Homo sapiens: one gene and its partners. The protein of the gene in region 3 interacts with the protein of the main gene of each other region in a pairwise test. Each region holds a gene or a part of one and is shown on either strand. Other genes may lie near its edges.

Region 1 (3,500 bases), on a different chromosome or scaffold from region 3:
TACCAAGCTGGTTAAAGTGGTGGTTGGTTAAGAAACTGTATATCAGGTTCAAACTACTGTAATAAATGTTAGTTACCACAAATACCCAATTTAAAGATGTTATCAACATACCAATAACAATCAGTACAACTTTTTAAGTGGGAAGTTTTTTCCTGTTAATTTTTGTTTGTCAACAAGAAGAGAAGCCAGAAAAAGAAAAGGTAATCATTTTCATCATGCTGTTTGGTCTGTTTGTTCTTCCATCTCTCCCATTAGACTCTAAGCTCCCTGCATGTCTGTCTCCTTCATAACAGTATCACAGAACTTGGCACTCAATGAGTGTTCAATAAATTTGCTATGTTGACACATCCTAACCTGGATCAGAATTTCAGCCTCTCATTGCTGGTCTATAAATAAAGTTTTCTGGGGCTGGGGAAAAAAAAAACCTAGAATGATAGGTTTGGCTACCCATGATCTATTACCTTCTAATATAGTCATGGACTATATAACATTTCAGTCAACTACAGACCACATATACAAGAGTAGTCCCAAGAGATTATAATGGAGTTGAGAAATTCCTATCCCATCATAGCTGTGGTGTCACAGCACAATGCATTACTCATGTGTTTATGGTGAGTACACAATCAAACCTACTGTGCTGCCGGTCATATAAAAGTCTAGCACAGCTGAGCACGGTGGCTCATGCCTGTAATCCCAGCACTTAGGGAGGCTGAGGATGCAGATTGCCTTAGTCCAGGAGTTCAAGACCAGCCTGGGCAACATGCCGAAACCCTATCTCTACAAAAAAATACAAAAATTAGCCAGGCATGGTGGCATGTGCCTGGAGCCCCAGATACTTGTTGAGGTGGGAGGATCGCTTAAGCCCAGAAGGTCAAGGCTGCAGTGAGCTGTGATCACACCATTATACTCCAGCCTGGGCAACAGAGTAAGACCCTGTCTCAAAACAACAACAACAAAATGTAGCACATACAATTATGTGCAGTACATAATACTTGATAGTAAATGACTATTACTGGTTTCTGTATTTACTATACTGTACTTTTTATTGTTTAACTGTAGAGTGTATTCTATTTTTTTAAAAAGTTAATTGTAAAACAGTCTCAGAAGAAGGGATTGTTATCATAGGAGATGATAGCTCCACGCCTGTTACTCTCCTGAAGACCTCCCAGTGGGATAAGATGTGGAGGTGGAAGACAGTGATACTGATGATCCTGACCCTGTGTAGGCCTAGGTTAATGTGTGTTTGTGTCTTTGTTTTCAACCAAAGAAAAAGCTTAAAAAGTAAAATATGGGTAGCCAGAGGAACAAAAAGTAAAACAAACAAATACTAAATAATATTTTTAAATAAAGTTTCTAGAATAAAGATATAATGAAGAAAACATTAGCCAGGCATGGCGGCATACACCAGTTGTCCTAGCTGCTTGGGAGGCTGAGGTGGAAGGATCACTTGAGCCCAGGAATTCAAGACCAGCCTGGGGAACAGAGCAAGATCTCATCTCTTTTTAAAAAAAAAAAAAAAAAAAAAAAGTGATTTTAGTATGACAGGAAAGAAAGAGAAAAATATTGTTATATAGCTGTACAATGTGTTTTAAGCTAAGTATTACAAACGAGTCAGAATGTTAAAAAATGTAAAAGTTTATAAAGTAAAAAAATTACAGTAAGCTAAGGTTAATTTATTATCGAAGAAAAATAATTTTTTGATTTAGTGCAACCTAAGCTGTACAGTGTTTCTGTAGTGTACAGTAATGCCCTAGGCCTTCGCATTTACTCACCGCTCACTCACTGATGCACCCAGAGCAACTTCCAGTCATAATAAGTGTCCTGGTCAGGTGAACCATTTTTTATTTTTTGTACCGTATTTTTCCTGTACTTTGCTTGTTTAGATATGTTTAGATACACAAATACTACTGCATTACAATTGCCTATTTATTCAGTACAGTCACATGCTGTACAGTTTTGCAGCTTAGGAGCAATAGGCTATACCATATAGCCTACATGTGCAGTAGGCTATACCATCCAGGTATGTGTAAGTACATTCTATGATGTTTACACAACAACAAAATCACCTAATGATGCATTTCTCAGTACGTATCCCCAACGTTAAGCGACACATGGCTGTATTTTCATCTCTTTTTCTTCACATTCCATGTATGCTTCTTGACATTGCTTAAATTTATAAATCAAGGTCCTATTTATACTTATATTACTACTGTATTAATGCTAATAATATTCTGTAAACTATTCTATCTTGATTAAGGCCATTAGTGCCCATTAAAATTTTTTTTAATTGGGTTGAATGCCTTATTCGGTTGGAATTTTACATTCCCACAATGTGTGGCAGCTAATGCTTCTGGCACATCTACTGAGAACATAAAAGTTCTCCTGGAACTAACAAATTACTTCCCTTCCAACATAATTATATAATCTGAGAGTTGAAAAGCACCCTAGAGATTATTCTGTGGTCCAAAATCCCTCCCAATTAAGGAATCTCATCTAAAACTACTCAACTCTGTCTGCAAGAAGGGATGCTAATATTTAGATTCTCCATGACACAGCGCTGCAGCCATAGCAGGCTCTTTAATACATGCTTTTTGTTGTTTCTCATACATGTTTGTTGAACTGAACAAATCTAAAATGGACGTATTTCACTCATTTTATTTTTCTTCCCAGGCTTTAGCTGTAACACCCACTGAATCTGTAATTTAAAGCTTTGCATGATTCCTCGGCTCATTAGCCAACGTTCAAAAAGAAATTCAATAAAGGAAACTCAATGCATTAAAGAAACTCATTTTAACAGTTTAAAATTTTAAGCTCCTGGCCTGGCAAAGTGGCTCTTGCCTATAATCCCAGCATTTTGGGAGGCTGAGATGGGAGGATCTCTTGAGCCCAGGAGTTTGACAATAGCCTGGGCAACAAAGGGAGACCCTGTGATATGCTATGGCTCTGTGTCCCCACCCAAATCTCATCTCGATTTGTAATCACCACCTGTGGAGGGAGGGAACCTGTAATCCCTCCCATGTGTTGAGTGAGGGAGGTAACTGGATCATGGGGAGTTTCCCCCATGCGGTTCTCATGCTAGTGAATGCTCACGAAATCCAATGGTTTTACAAGTGTTTGGGAGTTCCTCCTTCCCTTCTCTCTCTCCTGCTGCCTTGTGAAGAAGGTTCTTACTTCCCCTTTGCCTTCTGCCATGATTGTAAGTTTCCTGAGGCTTCCCCAGCCATGTATAACTGTGAGTCAATTAAACCTCTTTCTTTATAAATTACTCAGTCTCAGGTATTTCTTTATAACAGTGTGAAAATGGACTAATACACCCTGTCTCTACATAAAATTTAAAAATCAACCAGATGTGGTGGCTTGTGCATGTAGTCCCAGCTACTTGGGAGGCTGAGACGGGAGGATTGCTTGAGCATAGGAGGTTGAGGCTGCAGTGAGCCATGATCACACCACTACACTCCAACCTGGGTGACACAGTAAGACCCTGTCTCAAAATAAATAAA
Region 2 (2,878 bases), on a different chromosome or scaffold from region 3:
GTCTGTAATCCCAGCACTTTGGGAGGCCAAGGCGGGTGGATCACCTGAGGTCAGGAGTTCAAGACCAGCCTGCTCAACATGGTGAAAGCCCATCTCTACTAAAAATACAAAAAATTAGCTGGGCGTGGTGGCAGATGCCCGTATTCCCAGCTACTCCGGAGGCTGAGGCAGGAGAGTTGCTTGAACCCAGGAGGAGGAGGTTGCAGTGAGCCGAGATCTCGCCATTGCACTCCAGCCTGGTCAATAAGAGTGAAACTCCATCTCGGGGGTGGGGGAAGAAAGAAAGAAAGAAAAAGGACAACGGGTGAGACTGTGATGAAGCACACTCTGCCACCCTGGAAGAGGGCCAGAGCTACACCCAGTAGATAAAATAACCTAATCAATGAGGCAATGAGAACTTTAGCGACAGGCTGGGAAACAGTTTCTTCCCTTTCTTAAGCTGGCCTCCTTTGAAACTCTCCCCTGCCCCAGGGAAATTCTTTTTTCATTACCACCAATATATATTTTCAAAGGAGCTTGAGACTTAGAGTAGTCTGACTTGATACTCAGCCTCATAGATTTGGGGATAGTGAGATTAAGGGAAGGCCTCTGGAGAATTAAGGCTGTACAGGAACAACAAAATCGCTTCGAGGTAAAGTTCTCCCGCCAGGCAGCAGGTGGCGCCATTAGCGCGGTGGGCCGCCGGGAGAAAGCCTCGGAGACCCAGGAAGGGAAAAATGTGTGGGATATTAACACCTCAGGTTCTTGTTTTCATATTTGGAATAAGTCAGATGTTGAAGGAAAGACATGCACACCTCTCCACAGGCAGAACTACTAGGATATAATCCCTTCCTGCCTTTTTTTCTTATGCCCTTCTTCTAAAGTGCAGGAGGGAACAGGGGAGTTTGAGCGGAGATGGGAGCCCTCGGGGAGCAGAATGTGCACCAGGTGTGGCTGGGGGAGACCGCACCTGTCTAACTATGTGAGGGCTTTAATGCAATGCAATCCCGGCAGCCCGAGGGCAGCAGGAAGGAGACGCCTTACGTCCGTGATGGCCTTCTTGGCCTTCTCCTCAGCGTTCCTTGCATCCCTGCTGGCATCTTCTACCTCACTCTGGAGCTGCATGAGGTCTGTCTCCAGCTTCTTCTTGGTGTGGATGAGGCTGGTGTTCTAGGGCAAGAGGAGGGCTGTTAACCAGGTGCGTATGAGGCTGGAACCTCGCCTCTCTTCCTCTCCCTCCCCTCACCTGGGTATGCAGCAGCTGCACCCTCTCGTTGGAGTCCAGGAGCTCCTGTTCCGCCAGTTTCCGGGCCCTCTCCGTCTGCTCCAGAGTAGCCCGCAGCTCCTCCACCTCGGCCTGCAGCAGGTTGGCTCTGCGCTCCACAATCGCCAGCTGCTCCTTCAGGTCCTCCTGGCCCCGGAGGGCATCATCCAGGTGGAGCTGCGTATCCTAGCCAGAGAAAAACGAACATTCTATTTGAAGTTGAGGCGTTAGGACCACGAGCCTCATCTGCATCTCTGAGTTTTGTTTGTTTGTTTGTTTGTTTTTGTTTTGTTTTGTTTTGTTTGTTTTGAGACAGGGTCTTGTTCTGTCACCCAAGCTGGTGTGCAGTTGCGTGATCTCAGCTCACTGTAACCTCTGCCTCCTGGAAAGCAATCCTCCCATCTCAGCCTCCCAAGTAGCTGAGACCACAGGCTTGTGCCACCATGCCTAGCTAATTTTTATTTTTTTTGTAGAGATAAGGTTTTGCTATATTGCCCAGGCTGGTATCAAACTCCTGGGCTCAAGTGAGCCTCTTGCCTCAGTCTCCCAGAGCGCTGGGACTACAGGCGTGCACCACTGTGCCCAGCCTACATTTCTGAGTATGTGAGGAGGAGAGAGGTTTTTCCCCGATGGGTTCTCTCAAACCTTCAGCTGTCCCTGGACACTCCTGAGGTGTTTGAGGGTCTCCGCCGCCTGGCGGTTGGCGTGGCTCAGCTGGATCTCGATTTCATTCAGGTCCCCCTCCATCTTCTTCTTGAGCCGGATGGCTTCATTCCTGCTCCGCACCTCGGCGTCCAGGGCGCTCTGCATGGTTTCCACTGTTCTCTGGTAGTTCCTCTTCAGCTGCTCGATCTCTTCATCCTTCTCGGCGATCTTTCTATCAATTTCTGATTTCACTTGTGTCAATTCAAGCTGGATTCGGAGGATCTTGGCTTCTTCATGCTCAAGAGCAGCCTTTAAGAAACAAAAGCAAATCAAATAGTGTCTGTGATGGTATGGAGCCAGCTCCACTACCCTGCAGGATAACAAAACTTCAATGGAATAGTCCTAAATCTAATCCTACAATAGTCACAATTCACTTTTTAAATGTCCCCAAATTGGCCGGGTGCAGTGGTTCACACCTGTAATCCCAGCACTTTGGGAGGCCGAGGGGGGCAGATCACCTGAGGTCACGAGTTTGAGACCAGCCTGACCAATGTAGTGAAACCCTGTCTCTACTAAAAATACAAAAATTAGCCAGGCATGGTGGTGCCCGCCTGTAATCCCAGCTACTCGGGAGGCTGAGGCAGGAGAATCATTTGAACCCAGGAGACAGAGGTTGCAGTGGGCCTAGATTGCCAGCATGGGCAACAAGAGCAAAACTCTGTCTCAAGAAAAAAAAAGTCCCAAATTTATCTTCAGTGCAGAAATAAAAGCACGTTTCATTGCTTTTTGGTTTTGATTATACTATCAACCAATAATAATGTTTAAATCATATTTCTTAGGAGCATAAAGCACTTTCTAGATATTTTTAATTCATGTAATATTTTGTAAAATCTCATCTTTAGGCCTATTTAATATGACAGTCTTCTCCAATAAATTTAAGATAATTCACAGGTATTATTCAGCCTCACAGTTTTGCTGTGTGACGGGAAA
Region 3 (3,739 bases):
TTTCACTGAAATACCAGTGTTTATTTTTCAGTATAGCAAAGATCAAAAAGTTATTAACATACTGCATTAATGAGGGTGTGAGTAACTAGGGACTCTCATACGTTGCTGAAGAGACTATAAATTGGGTCAAATCTTGTGTAGAATAATATAACACTATCAGGCAAAATTACATGTGCACATGTCTGTTGACCCAGCAAATCAACTTCTAGAAATATAGCCTATAGGTAAATTACATATTTTTATGTGTGTGTGTGTATGTGTCATATATATATATGTATTCATGTGTGCATGTATGAAATTCTCTACAAGGATTCCCAGAAACCTGATAACATGCTTTGCCTGGAGTAAGGGTGAGGAGTGGGGATGAGTGATGGTGGAAGTGATACTTTTCACCATACATCCTTTTTATATCTTGAGAATTTTGAACCTCATGAATCTTAAAGTTATTCAAAAATACAAATTTATGAATGTAAATGAAGGGAAAAGTTAGGTACAAGCACTTTGGAGGAATCATTTTTGAACCTCACAGTTTTCCAATCTTCATTTTATAGAGAAAGAGGCATTATTGGAGACTTGACAGCAAATGTCTAACATTATTTCAGAATGAATCTGGATCAAAGTATTATAAGGTAAGGATTTTACACTTTAAAAAATATAAGCATTAAGATAGTGTATGTTTTTTTCAGATAATATTCATTAACTGTTATATTTGAATATATATGACTCTAGCTAGTATGGTTTATAGAAGTCACTGTTAGGTTCCTTGTTGAAGCAACTATTTCCCATACCAAATTTCACTCCCCCACAGCAGCTCTCCTTCCAGACTGTTTGTTGTTGTCGTGTATTTATTTATTTCTGGCTTGCCTGTCAGGTTGCTGCTGCTTTCCTTCTGGATACTCTGATTTAGATTAGACTGCTTAGAAAGTCCCATCATCATTGACTGTCCAGAAGAGGTCAGTGAGGTATTTAGTATTTCTCCCACCTTCCACCTTACCTTGGGTGCCAATTCCCAATTGCTTGTTTGGCTCTTAATCTCCTTTTTACAGTCTTCCTTGCTTGGCTTATTCCACGTTTTGCCACATCACAAACTGATAGCAAGCAAGATTATAACCAAGCAGTTAGGTCAGTAAGAGAGAATGGGAACTAATGGCTTGCTTTGAGCAGGTGTTTTTTTGTTTGTTTGTTTTTAGTAAGTTTTTTTTTTTGCCTTAGGAAGTGGACTAAAAATATAATGATTGCTACAGGTTACTCCAGTGGACAGAACCAGAATGGGAGTGGCTTAAACAACTGACCAAGATTCTGCTTTTTCTGCCATTATTTCTGCTTCTTACTTGCTTTGGGGCTATATCTTGTAGACTACAGTCACTAGATAAGTAGTTGTGAAGCTGAATTAATGACAGTTGGAAGTTACAAGTGTTGGATATAGTGGCAGATTACTCTCCTATATCTTCTTCCTTGCATCCTAATGATCTGCTACTGGCTTAGTTATCATAGTCCATGCTCTGCGTCTGGCATTGCTGGACATTGCAGCTCATTCAAGACAGGCCATGTCATAAGACTCAACTGTGTATTAAATGTTGCATACTTGTGTCCGTCTTAATGGCATTCATTGAAATGCATATCTCTGGTTCTTTAGTGTATTTAAAAATAAAAACAAAGATCTATTCTTATTTTTCAATGCTTAATTTTTTACTTCAGGAAATTCCACTTTCAGAAATTCTCCGCATATCTTCACCACGAGATTTCACAAACATTTCACAAGGCAGCAATCCACACTGTTTTGAAATCATTACTGATACTATGGTATACTTCGTTGGTGAGAACAATGGGGACAGCTCTCATAATCCTGTTCTTGCTGCCACTGGAGTTGGACTTGATGTAGCACAGAGCTGGGAAAAAGCAATTCGCCAAGCCCTCATGCCTGTTACTCCTCAAGCAAGTGTTTGCACTTCTCCAGGGCAAGGGAAAGATCACAGTAAGCAATAAACTTCTTGATGGCTTTTTCTCCTCTTTAATTCTTAAGCATTTTGTGGGTATGGTTGTGTTCCTTTGTTCCTTTTAATGTTCATCCTAAGCTTAGTCTTTAGTAACCAATACTTTAGTAACCAATACAATTAGTTAACTCTTTTATAAAATTATATTGGTTATAGTATATATACGTACATACAATGCCCAGTGCTAGGCTCCAGAGTCAGTTTTCCTACATGAAAATCCTGGCTATACCATCTGTTATATGATCAGGCAAGTACTTTACCTCACTGTAGTAGTAAGTACTTCATAAGGTTGTCAGTATTAAATGAAAGAGAACCTGTAAGATACAGAACAGTGCTTGGCATCCGTAAAGTCTCATTGGATTATGCCTGCTACTGGTATTAATATTTTGCTTTATAGTGGGATATAAACAGGCAATAAAGTATTATGGTTCACATCACACTCATGAAATCTGTGAAGTCAGAAATGCTGTATTAAAACATACAGAAATATTTAAAAATCACTGAAACATGTTTTGCACCAACAAAACTTATATAATTAAGCCTAAATTGGATAAAGTTTCAAAAGTAAACAGTTAACAATCGAAAGGTCACTATAATGTCACTTCTCCCCCATTAACATTATGTTGCTTATGGGGACACATAAGTCATTCATTTGAGAAATATACTCAAATTGAAATAAGTATCAACAACTTTCCAAAGGTAGTTTATTTTAGTTTAGCTGTATTATTTTGTACAACTATTATGCTAGGCCCTGAGCTAAAATACAAAATAAATACAGAAATCATAAAAGCTCTTTAGGGAGAGATGGGATATATAAAGGTATTAGATGGTAGCATAAAGCAGTACAGTGCAAAAGTGAGGAATACATTACTTAAAAAACTCAGATACAGACAGAAGAGTAAACAAGACTTCATAGAAGAACCTGATTTGAACCTCAGGTAGAAATACAGTAGGCAGATCTCAGTGGGAGGGGTGGAGGGGTAACATTATTTAGTTGAGACAAGTGTGATGAGGATCATGACAACTGTGTACATGTTTGGTGTTCAGTACTGATTTGGGGTTGGAATGGGTGTAAGTAGATGGATGTTTCACAGTGGTTCTTAAGTTTTCGAGGTTTTTAGACAGAACTCTATGTCATTCTAATTAAAACTAGGACTGTTTCCTCAGAAAACAATACAGGCACTTACACACTCTTTAAAAGATAAATGAGGTGATTTATTTCAGGCAATAAATGTATTAAAGTACCAAAAAACAACATTATAAAATTATAAAAATGCAAGCAATTTAGAAGTGTATAAAAACTCTTTGTCCCCCAACCCCACCTCTTCCACTCACCAAAAGTAATCACAGATTTTTGTTTTTAATTTAAGCACTGCTACCCTGCAATTCCCTTGACTCCACTTCCCCCCCTCCCCCCACCAAGAGACAGGGTCTCGCTATGTCGCCCAGGTGAGAGTGCAGTGCGCAAATCATAACTTGCTGCAACCTCAAACTCCAGGGCTCAGATCCTCCTGTCTCAGCCTCCTGAGTAGCTAGGACTACCGGTGCACACCACTATGCCTGGCTAATTTTAAAATTTTTTTAGAGATAGGGTATCCTGTAGCCCAGGTGGTCTCAAACTCCTGGGCTCAAGTGATCCTCCTGCCTCAGCGTCCTAATGCACTGGGATTACAGTAAAACTTCCCTTTTTAACTCAGTAATAATCATAACTAGCTTTCTGACTTTCTGATTCAGTATTTATAGTC

Evidence for each region.
Region 1: the proteins of PRKD3 (region 3) and NUDT3 interact in a two-hybrid assay, tested with the Homo sapiens proteins (one large-scale study listed by BioGRID and IntAct).
Region 2: the proteins of PRKD3 (region 3) and MYH3 interact in a two-hybrid assay, tested with the Homo sapiens proteins (one large-scale study listed by BioGRID and IntAct).

The regions. Positions count from the first base shown.
Region 1 is NC_000006.12:34,386,170-34,389,669, forward strand, and holds part of NUDT3 (diphosphoinositol polyphosphate phosphohydrolase 1), read right to left. Parts: intron 1-3,500. UniProt on the Homo sapiens protein: Cleaves a beta-phosphate from the diphosphate groups in PP-InsP5 (diphosphoinositol pentakisphosphate) and [PP]2-InsP4 (bisdiphosphoinositol tetrakisphosphate), suggesting that it may play a role in signal transduction.
Region 2 is NC_000017.11:10,630,588-10,633,465, forward strand, and holds part of MYH3 (myosin-3), read right to left. Parts: exon of another isoform or gene 2,829-2,878; intron 2,198-2,828; coding exon 1,889-2,197; intron 1,430-1,888; coding exon 1,226-1,429; intron 1,178-1,225; exon of another isoform or gene 1,150-1,177; coding exon 1,024-1,149; exon of another isoform or gene 994-1,023; intron 82-993; exon of another isoform or gene 45-81; intron 1-44. UniProt on the Homo sapiens protein: Muscle contraction.
Region 3 is NC_000002.12:37,272,657-37,276,395, reverse strand, and holds part of PRKD3 (serine/threonine-protein kinase D3), read left to right. Parts: intron 1-551; coding exon 552-629; intron 630-1,698; coding exon 1,699-1,975; intron 1,976-3,739. UniProt on the Homo sapiens protein: Converts transient diacylglycerol (DAG) signals into prolonged physiological effects, downstream of PKC. Involved in resistance to oxidative stress.